2 separate regions of the Homo sapiens genome follow, and region 2 is linked to region 1. Evidence: fine-mapped QTL for protein levels in blood plasma. Region 1 holds a variant in brackets. A gene starts in the other region. All regions are shown on their forward strands.

Region 1 (5,527 bases):
CTAAAGTTCCCTGGGCTACATATTCGTTTGTCCTAAGTCCTGGTTGTTGAGTCTTCTTCATTTTGAGATCTGGGCTGGAGGAGAAATCCCTCCCTGGAACACACTGCCCTTGCAAAAGAAGGAAATGAGCTGTGTAACCTGATGATGTTTTTGAAAGTTTCTGCTCAGATGTAGCCCACGTAACTTTTGCTCACTTTCCATTGGCAAATGCAAGTCATATAGCAAAAGCCGATCTATGGGATGTGTGTGTATAATTCTCTTAAATACATGGAGGTTAACTGAGTGGGGACAGTAATGGTACAATACCCATCGAATAGTAACCTCCTTATCATCCTTCAAGAAGCAGCTAAAAATGTCATCTCTTCAGTATCATTCCATGGAAACATCTATCTCCCTGTTCTGTTCTACAGCATTACAACATTGAGACTTTCAGGACAATGTGCTGATTCCCCTACTACTTAGTGAGCCCTTTGAGGGCAGTGATAGTCTCTTATTTTATTCTATCTTCCCGTTACTTAGAACAGTCCCTGGAGCCTAGTACATTGTGCTATTATTGCTTACTTAGGGGAAAAAAAGGTGGTGCAATAATGCATGGAATCAGTCTTGAAATCCAAGGAATATTAAGAGAAAGTTATAAAGGAGGAGATGGAGAAAGACCAAAAACTGACTTTTGCACTTTTAAGTTGAGCTGTGTGTGTGTATATATATAATAGATATACAAGAAATATAGATGAGGCAGCTGCATTTATAAGCCTAAAGTTTTGGAGACATTTTCAGGGTGGATATATAAATTTGGCATACATTGGCAGTCATCAGCACATAGACGGTGTTATCACCTAAGAAAAGAATGGAGAAAGAGATGTTTATGATGTGTTTCCCATTTCCCACTTCCCACTTCCTGACTTGCCCAGAGACTGTAAGTCAGAACCTCTCCTTGGACAGACTCTTTTTTTTTTTTTCTTTGAGAGGGAGTCTTGCTCTGTCACCTAGGCTGGAGTGCAGTGGCGCAATCTCGGCTCACCGCAACCTCCGCCTCCTGGGTTCAAGCAATTCTCCTGCCTCAGCCTCCTGAGTAGCTGGGACCACAGGCGTGGGCCACCATACCCAGCTAATTTTGTGTATTTTTAGTAGAGATGGGGTTTCACCGTGTTAGACAGGATGGTCTCGATCTCCTGACCTCGTGATCCACCCGCCTTGGCCTCCCAAAGTGCTGGACAGGCTCTTAAAGTGTCTTCTAAAAGATCAACCTTGGTTGACCGTAGGTTTTTCATTAGAATGGAGACATATACTCAGCCTCAAAACTCTAATTTGACCCTCTGTTCCTTTGGGCTTACTTCTGCATGGAGCTGGGTTATATTATTATAGGGACCTTCAAAGTGCATTACCCGTCACCCCCGGACGCCTGTTGCATGAGCCATCCAAACCACATGTCTGTCACTCTCTTCCCTCCTCTTCCCCCATTTGTCATGTTGGTAGGATGACAGCTTTGTATTGAGTGAGTAATGAGGGCCAGGCATGATGACAAATGCCTTGCATGTGCTATCTCATTCCATCCTCACCACAACCTGGTGAGGGAGGCATTGACTCAATTTACGGATGTATTCAAAGCTCAGAGAGGTTAGGTAATGTGCCTCAAGTCAGCACGAGTAAGAAGCAGGTCTTTTGAATGGAAGTATCTCTCAGTGCAGATTCCATGCTCTCCATAAGCCACCAAGCTGCCTCAAACACAAACAAATCATTGAGAGCTGAGTCTTCTGGAAAGAGATATTTACACTTTGCAGGTAAAGAAACATACGCACATACACACGATACGTCTATATCTGTGTGTAGATATAAGTATACTTGGATTTTTTAAAAAAACAATATGTTACATAATTTCCTGCATTCTTAAATAGATAATGAATAATATTTAATAATTCCTCCATACTTTTATTTCATGTCTGCTCTGTGCCTCGCATTGTGTCAAGAGCAGTGTTTTGAACTTATTTTGAATTAACTGTTGTCCTCCAAAACTCTTAAGGGTTTGCGGTTTAACTGAAGAGAGGTAAGCTACATGCTGCTCTATGATCACCCTGACCCCCAATGTGATGGTATTTGGAGACAGGGCCTTTGAGAGGTAATTAGGTCATGAGAGTGGAGTGCTCCTGATGGGATTAGTGTCCTTCTAAGAGACAGGAGAGAGCTTGCTTCTTTTCTGTCTGCTCTCAGCTATGCCAGGACATAGCCAGGAAGAGGGCCTTCACCAGAACCCGAACAGCCTGGTACCTTGATCCCAGACTTCCATCTTACAGAACTGTGAGAAATACATGTCTGTTGCTTAAGCCAACCAGTCAATGGTCTCCTGTTACAGCAGCCTGATTAGTTCAGACACATACACATGTATGTATAAAAGAAGAACAGATCATATTAAGAGGAATAAGATACTTCTTTTTAAATGTTAAAGGCCTTCTAATTTGCAAGTCTTTTTCCTGTGTATAATTTCATTTGATCTTTGAAATAATTACCGCTATTTAGCAGACAAAAAAAATTGAGGCTGGGAAAATTTCAGTATTTGTTGAAGATTACACGACTAGTAGATGCCAAAGCTGGGAAATAAAACCCAGGTTCAAATCCAAGATTCCCTCTGGTAAAGTGAGGCTGACTCTTTACGGGAACAAGCTTCTCTCCTGTTCTCCAGGACCTCTGAGGAAGGAAATCTCACTCCCTTCTTCCGGCACCCAGGAACCTCGCTCCTTTATAGGAATGAAGTTCTGGTGTTCATTTTTGCTAAACTGCACTCGTGGGTTTGGCTGAGTGATGCCTGAGGCTGGGGGTGGCGGGCAAGAGAATGTGTGTGCCGTGTAGCTCCTGCCAGCCCTGCAGAGCTGGCATTTTCTACAAGAATGCTTGCTTCTCAGAAACACTGTTGATAATGAGGTTGCTCATTTTTAAAATGCTGTAACTGATATTCTGGGAAAACAAACCTGGTTCCAGAAGTGCAGCTGTGGTGTT[T/C]GGATTTAAGCTTGGAGGTAGTTGTTTAAGATGAGCTTTTAGCTGGCCTGACGACCTGTCAATGGACTGCGACGGGGCGGCACAATCAGGCCATTGTACTAACAGAGAAATCTCAGGGCTCTTCAGAGCCTAAGAGGATTGTGAGAATTCCTGAACCTGGCACCTACTAAAGTGGACTTTTCACCTCTTGGGACCCTGGTAAAGATGAAGAGAGAGAGAGTTTCAAATCAAAAGAAATGTGCCACGGATTACAAGAAATCCCCTCTAGCCTCAGTCAGACTTGGAGGACATGCAAATGCATTTGAATGGAGGAAGACTATTTGGGGCCCCTGGGAAACAGGGTGGCACAGAGCAGTTTCCTGGCCTCGAAGAGGATGCAGTTTTCCAAGATGTGGGGTTTGCTTGTGCATCTCCATGCGCAGGGCAGGGGGCTCAGCACAGTAATAACCAGAGTCACACACCATAGGCAGATCCCTGGCTCTGCTTGGAGGGACAAAGATTCAGAGCTGGGCGGATCATCAATAGACCATCTACACCAAGCCCCTGACTCCTGAACTACATTCTTTCCATCATACCCGTCACTCCATGTCTATTTTCTCAGTATTGAATGAGAAAGGAAATGAATGTTTACTGCATCTAATTATGTGCCAGGTGCCTCATTAAGTTTATAATGGAAATCACACAGTATGATAATAGCCAATATTTAAGAAGAATCTAGTAGGTGCAGGCATGAGTCTAATTGTTGGATACACATTAACTTATATTTAATTCTCACAATAGCCCCAAGTGGTAGGCTGTGGTGAGTATCTGAGACAGAGGCACAGAGAAATGTTCTTAGCCAGCAAGCAAAAGAGCTGAGATTCCCCGCCGATGGCTGTCTGACTCCAGAGACCTGCTCTTTGCCTCATGTCAAGGGTACAGCCTGAATCAGATAAGGTTCTCTGTCCCCAGTCTGGACACATGGCCCCTTTTGAAATTGTTCCAGAACAAGTTTCTTCCTCTTTTCCTACCTGACAATTCCTCCAAGAGGCAGAGCCAAAGGAACCTTCCACTCCAGGATTCATCTGAAAGTCCTCAAAGACAGCATCTCTTAGCATTACATTGCTAAAGGTTTTAAAAACCTGCCAGTCCTTAAAAGTTTACCAACCCTACTGAACCAATAGGTATCTAGTGGTGACAACACTGGCTATATTTTTAAAAATTGGCATACATTGCACTCAACACTTCTGTTTGTTCTGTGTTCTGCTTTTAATTGGTGCTTCATATTCTACATAATCTAATTTAGTAAGTCTTTTCTTTGTGAACTGTGTATGTCAACTGATAGAAAGTAGATCCATTCTCAAGGAGATAATCATAGGCCGGAGCTAAAGAAGAAACATCTTTACAAAACACAAACATGAACATGGTAACCTTTGGTTTGCAAATTACCTGGAGATTTTTTAACCCTTTGGGATCTTGTTTCTCACTCACTATCTCATCAGTCTGGCTTCTTCCCACAGCCTTGCCCTGGAGGCTCCAGGCACAGAATTACAGTGGCACAAGCCCTTCTAGGGTGATTGTGCCTTGCACACACAGCTCCCTGAACACATTCAGACCGAGCACCACATTCCTTCTACCTGGCTAACGCCTGTGAATCTGCCAAAGCACCATCACCCCCTCCAGGAAAAATACCTTCACCAGACAGCATCTGGGAAGTCAAGTCCACTTCCTAGAGGTTCCCCTGTACTCTGTGTCTACCACCTGCTATCCTGACACCTATCACCTCCAACTGTTATCGGCCAAGTCCTGATGACATTGTGAATTCTTTGAGGCAAAGACTATACTCCTTTGACTCTATATCCTCAGAGTCTTGATACCATCCTGGCACACAGCAGAAGCTCAAAAATGCTTGATGAGTGAAGGATACACATTTATAAATCCACTGTTTAAATAGAGTTTAGGGTTTTCAAAGGGCCCAGGCATATGAACCTCCTTTGTAAATCACCCCAAATCAAATACAATGTTCACAATAACATACAAGGATGGGCTCCATCAAACTAATTCAAATGCATAGCTGCAGCCTGTTCTTTGCTTTTATTTTAGTTTTTCGTATTGGGTAGATTTTTTTATGGGGGCGATGTTTTGGAGTACTGTGGTACAATGTTCTGCACCATAAAGAAATTTTAGTGTTTAGAAGTCAGAAATTGAGTCTGACTGTGAACTACAGCAAAGTGCATGCATGTAGGCTGTGCATTGACCACAGAATGCAAATGCTGAGCCATTATAATATATCTAGATCTACACAGGTAGGCAGATAGCTAGATATAGATACAGATATACATAGATAGAGATATAGACACAGATACAGATATTGTTATGTAGATAAATAGCTGGATATAGTTTCTTGTTATATACAGAGGAAGGTCTTGATCTTAGTTTTAATACTGAAGACACAGGCAATAATTAGCAAACTCATAAATTCGAGTAATGTTTATTTAATTTCTGGCAAATAAAATCATGATATATTTGTTTGAATTCAGTTCTCTCAGTATATTAC
Region 2 (5,000 bases), not on the chromosome of region 1:
CCCACAGGCTCCTAACACCTTGCTGCTTCTCCAGGTGGGGTCTGACGTGGAGTCAGCTCACAGACCTGCCATTCCTCTCTCATAGTACTCCTCATTCCAGTGATATCTTGGCCTGCTTCATGAACCCTGAGCCCAGAGTTCCTAAAGCACCAAACCCAGTGAAGCAGAGACACTTCTGGCATGGGTCTGTGGGTTGCTTCTCAGGGGCCAGGCCAGCAAGAATGATTCAGCACACAGGCCAACCTGTGCAAGCTTTATGCATGCATTTTAGGGCAATGGGAAGAGTGGTGAGTGAGGTTTATGGTAAATCTTTAACCACATTCAATTTTTTCTAAGACTTTTCTGCTTTAGAACATGTAGAAATGGAGAAATGACCAGGGGCTGCACAATGCTGTGCTTATTATATTGCTGTAGAGAGAAGGATGCTGCCAGCTCTCCATAGCCTGGGGTGAACTTGGCCTATGTAATGAGGTAGCAGGGAGTCAGGCAGGTGAGTTCTTCCTCTTGTATTGCCTTTTCCAGTAAATGCCAATACACTCCCCAGCTCACCTTTACCTAACATCTAGGTCTTAATCCAAGTTGTCCTCCCACTCCCCAGGGTGAATTGATCTTCCTGCCACGGCACCTCCTGAGCATCTGTTGGCTGAGTCTCCATCCCCACCCGTGAAAACAGCCTTGTGATGTGCTGTTTAATATCACAGAATGGAAACAGTGTTTTGATTCACCAGGATCCAAACACTCTTTTTGTAGAATCTACAAAGTGACATGGATGGCCATATTTTAGAGGACTGTTCCTGCAGCTGGTGGGGAAGCCCTGGTGAGGAGCAGTACAGCAGGCTGTTCTGGCTGGCTCGTTCTGAGCTGTAGGGATGTGACGGAGGCAGGAAGAGTGAGGATGCAGAGGAGGGGAGGACCAAGGAAGTAGAAATGAGCAGCAGCCTGGTAGGACCTGGAGGCTGGTAAGACTTGAGGGGAGAAGCCTAGGATGGGGCTCGGATTTACTATCACAGAGACAGCCAATGGGGTGATGTCAGGAGAAAGGTTGAGGAGTTCAGGTTGGGATATGTTGAATTTGAAATACCTGTAGGGTGTCCAGGCAGAGTGGATCTGAGCTCAAAAAAGTCTGGCTGGAGACTGAGCTAGAGAGAGATGTGGGAGTTCCAGGCATGTGTGGTCCCCAAGAAGGACGGGCAGAGCACGGGTTCTCCCCTGTTTTTAATCCCATACCCTGACACTTCAAATGACTGTTGTGTTTTACTTTCTCTAGTTTATATCAGGAACCCAACAATGATGACAGTAGCTGTTATGGACTGAATTGTGTTCTCCCCCCAAATCCATATGCTGAAGTCCTAAAACCAGGACCTCAGAATGTGACCGCATTTGAAGGTAGGGTCTTTAAAGAGGTAATTAAGTGCACAATGAGGTCACAAGGATGGGCTCTAATCCAATATGACTGGTGTACTTAAAAGAAATAAATATTAAGACACAAACACACACAGGGAAGACCAAGTGAGGATACAGGGAGGAGATGGCCATCTGCAAGCCCAGGAGAGGAGTCTCCAAAGAAACCAACAGTGCTGACACTTTGATCTTGGATTTCCAGCCTTCAGAACTATGAGAAAATAAATTTCTGTTACTTAAGCCACCCAGTCTGTGATAGTTTGTGATGACACCCATAGCAGACTAGTACAGTAGCTAACACTGGATACTTATTATGTGTCAAATACTGTTTTAAGCACTTTGCATATTTTAACACATTTAATATTCATAGCAACCCTATTTGTGGAAGGTAGTACAGTCTACGGCACGGCAGCTATATCGGCCCCTTTATTTTCCCCAGGGTTTGGAGTCTCTTCCACTTTCCAGCTTGTCCTCCTGCCCTTCACTCTACCCGGGACCATATCCTCCAGATTCTCACAGGTCCCTCCATCTCTCCTCAGGTGCCAGGCTCAGCAACCTGCCCTCATTACCTGCCAGTTCCTGACCCTATCTGTCACTAGCTCCTTACCTGGCTGGATTGGTCTTCTGAATACTTGCCATTCCCTGGCATGATGCTTTTGCAAAATAAGAAAATCAATAATAATAATAATAACTGCTAGTGTCTAATAAGCATGTGCTCTTCAATGTCTATTCTCTTACAACTACCTTAACAAATAGGGACATATTATTATTCTCCTTTTAACTTTGCTTTCCAGAGAAGGAGGCTGGGGCTCAGGGAGATGAGGTGAGTTTTTCCAGGTCTCACAGGAACAGGACTGAAGGAAGGAAGCCATGTTTGCCAGGAGAAACCAAATGGACATACAGGCTTTCTGTGGAATACACAGTTCCTGCTATCTTTTGGTTGACAAAGTCTGAGGTCCTAGGAAAGAGAGGAAAGTAATAGAAATATGAATATGAGTGTGTGTGTATTTTGCTTCCCTCACCAAAGTTTTCACAGTCTATATTAATGAGGGCACGATTTTGCCTGTTTTGTTCTCTGCCATATCCTCATTGTCTAGATTAGGTGCCTGCTACTGTGGAGCTCTAAGAGGTTGTTAGAGAAAGAATAGAAGAAAGAAAAGAAGGAAGGAAGGAAAGAAGGAAGAAAGAAAAGAAAGAGGGAAGGAAGGAAAGAAAGAAGGAAGAATGAAAGGAAAGAAGGATAGAAGGGAGAAAGGAAGGAAAGAAGAAAGAAAGGAAGAAAGGAAAGAAGGAAGGAGGAAGGAGAAGGAGAAAGGGTAGGGTGGGGAAGGAAAGAACAAAGGATTGCTTTTCCCTCACTGTGGGCTTGAGCCTGTTCCCTCCAAAGATACAGAGCTTTGGTCTTTACCCATAAAAAAGGATTTTGAAGTCACCCCACCCCGTTCTGTTCCCCCACAGTTTAGACAAGATCCTCATGCTCCACTGGCCACACGAGTGCCCTCAGGAGGAGTAGACACAGGTGGAGGGAGCTCCTTTTGACCAGCAGAGAAAACAGGATGGGGCACTGCCTCACTGAGGACCTGGGGGTGGGAAGGAAAGTGCCAACGGCAGCTCTATAAAAGCTCCCTGGCCAGGGGACCTAGGGCAAGCAGTGGTTTCTCCTCCTTCCTCCCAGGAAGGGCCAGGAAAATGGCCCTGGTCCTGGAGATCTTCACCCTGCTGGCCTCCATCTGCTGGGTGTCGGCCAATATCTTCGGTAAGTTCTGAGGCCATGGAGCCAGGCGGTGGGGAGGGAGCTCCAGTGTCAGCCAGGCTCTGCCCTGGGCCTTCGAACAGGTGCGATCTAATTTAATCTTCACAAATTCCCACATGTCAGTGATTTGCTTTTTTTTTTTCAGATGAAGAGGCAGATTTAGAGAGCCGAACTGAATTACTTGAGGTCACAGAGCTAGTGATTGATGGAGCAGAAATGGGAAATGTGGTTGATCTTCCTAATTCAATTCTAGGTCCTCCTCACCCCACCATTTTGGCAAACTTTTGGCATTGACCTTGGGTTTTTATCCCCTTAGCTATTCCAAAGTCTGTGTCATCCATAACAGGTATTTTAGAAGCAGTAGAAAAAGAAATCTACCTATGAAGTGAAATAGCCCTAAGTTCTGTCTTTGGCTCAGCCACTTACCCATATGACTTCGGGCAAAGTGCCAAGCTTCTGTTTTTTTTTTTTTTTTTTCATTTAAAAAGTAAACAAATAACACACACCTCATGATGCGGTTGTGATTTCTGGGTAGGACCCTATGTGTTACAAGAGTTCTCAATGGAAAAATAAGTCATGTACATTATTAATTAATTGGTATTTCAATGTTTATCTGGAACATGTTACATCTGCAGGGCATGGCTTGATAGATTCAAGAAGAACTTCCTTACGGTTCTCTAACTTACTCCAAATAGCCTCATGGGAATTGCGGCAGGGTGGGGGCGGGCGGGGAACGTGTAGTCCCAGCGTTGATTTTGGGATCCTTCACTTGCCAGTTACGTGACTTTGGGCAGACGACTTTCGCTGCCTGAGACTTGGTGCCTCATGAGTGACAAGGATATATTGCCTGTCACCTCTTAGGAGAATGTTGCACATTAAATGAGCTAATGTCATACTTGTAAGAAAGTGTGCTTAGCTGCCAAATTTTAAAATAGGCTGTCATAGGTAATGATGATGACCCTGGAAAAGCATCTGTGCTTATGAGAGCCCGTCTCTGTCCTGGCAGCCCAGTCCACACTCTTCTTTGATGAACCACTTTTCTTTTCCTAGAGTACCAGGTGGATGCCCAGCCCCTTCGTCCCTGTGAGCTGCAGAGGGAAACGGCCTTTCTGAAGCAAGCAGACTACGTGCCCCAGTGTGCAGAGGATGGCAGCTTCCAGTAAGGCTTATGTCAGCAGCGAACTCTCAAGGTCCAAGATGCCATAAAAAGCATCTTGTGCCTTCCCCCCTCTTCCTGAGCTCTGCCCTGCAACTCCTTTGTGCATGTGAGGCTTGGCCACTGTCATTTGGAGGTGCCTGCCTTTCAGTTCCACTGTCATTTGGAGGTGCCTGCCTTTCAGTTCCCCAAGCTGTTCAACACTGGACAATCTGACCAAGTGAACCCCAATCCATGCTTCATCCTCCCACTGCCCTCCCTTCTCTTCTTGCCATCACTTTTTCTGTGATGGCTTGAATAAACGGCACGTGTGGGGAGTGGGGCAGGTTGAGGAGAGTGTCAAATGATCTGTGCTTTGGGACCTCTCCCTCCTCCAAGTATCCTCTTGAGAAGCTGGGGTGGTGGAAGCAGAGGCTGCCTTGACTTCCTAGTCCTTAGCTGCCACCGACCCTGCCCGGACTAGCTCTCTAGGCTGCCTCTGGGCTTCTGGGTCGCTGTCTCCACATTGAGCTGCTCTCTGAAAGGGGTTTCTCCAGCTGCCCTAATGCAGACTTGGGGCCTGAGACCCTCTCTGTGGAGAGTGTGGTAATAATCTAGACAATTCTTCCCTGCAGAATAGACAGGAATCCTTTGCAATGTGCATGCATTGAAATTTCCTTGTGCTATTCCAGTCATGTTGAATCAGGGGAA

Direction of the effects. Positions count from the first base shown, and alleles are read on the strand shown. Strength reflects both the effect of a copy and how common the allele is.
As copies of C replace T in region 1, the plasma level of the protein whose gene starts at base 3,048 in region 2 goes up (weak association).

Evidence for each region. PIP is the chance, under the fine-mapping model, that this variant and not a neighbour inherited with it causes the effect. Protein levels are from antibody-based Olink assays in UK Biobank. Linkage for the fine-mapping came from a reference panel and not from the study's own genotypes, which makes the PIPs less certain.
Region 2: TG starts here. The variant in region 1 is fine-mapped to the plasma level of the TG protein (UK Biobank, PIP above 0.99).

What each region holds. Positions count from the first base shown.
Region 1 is chr2:217,369,072-217,374,598 of GRCh38, forward strand. The region is part of intron 8 of DIRC3 (disrupted in renal carcinoma 3); the gene reads right to left. Among named protein-coding and RNA genes, the nearest start is that of DIRC3-AS1, 89 kb to the left of the region's middle. RefSeq lists an enhancer at 925-2,124. The variant T/C (reference allele first, on the strand shown) is at 2,992.
Region 2 is chr8:132,863,911-132,868,910 of GRCh38, forward strand. TG (thyroglobulin) reads left to right here and starts at 3,048. Exons shown (of 48, transcript NM_003235.5): 1 at 3,048-3,157; 2 at 4,205-4,313. The coding sequence starts at 3,091.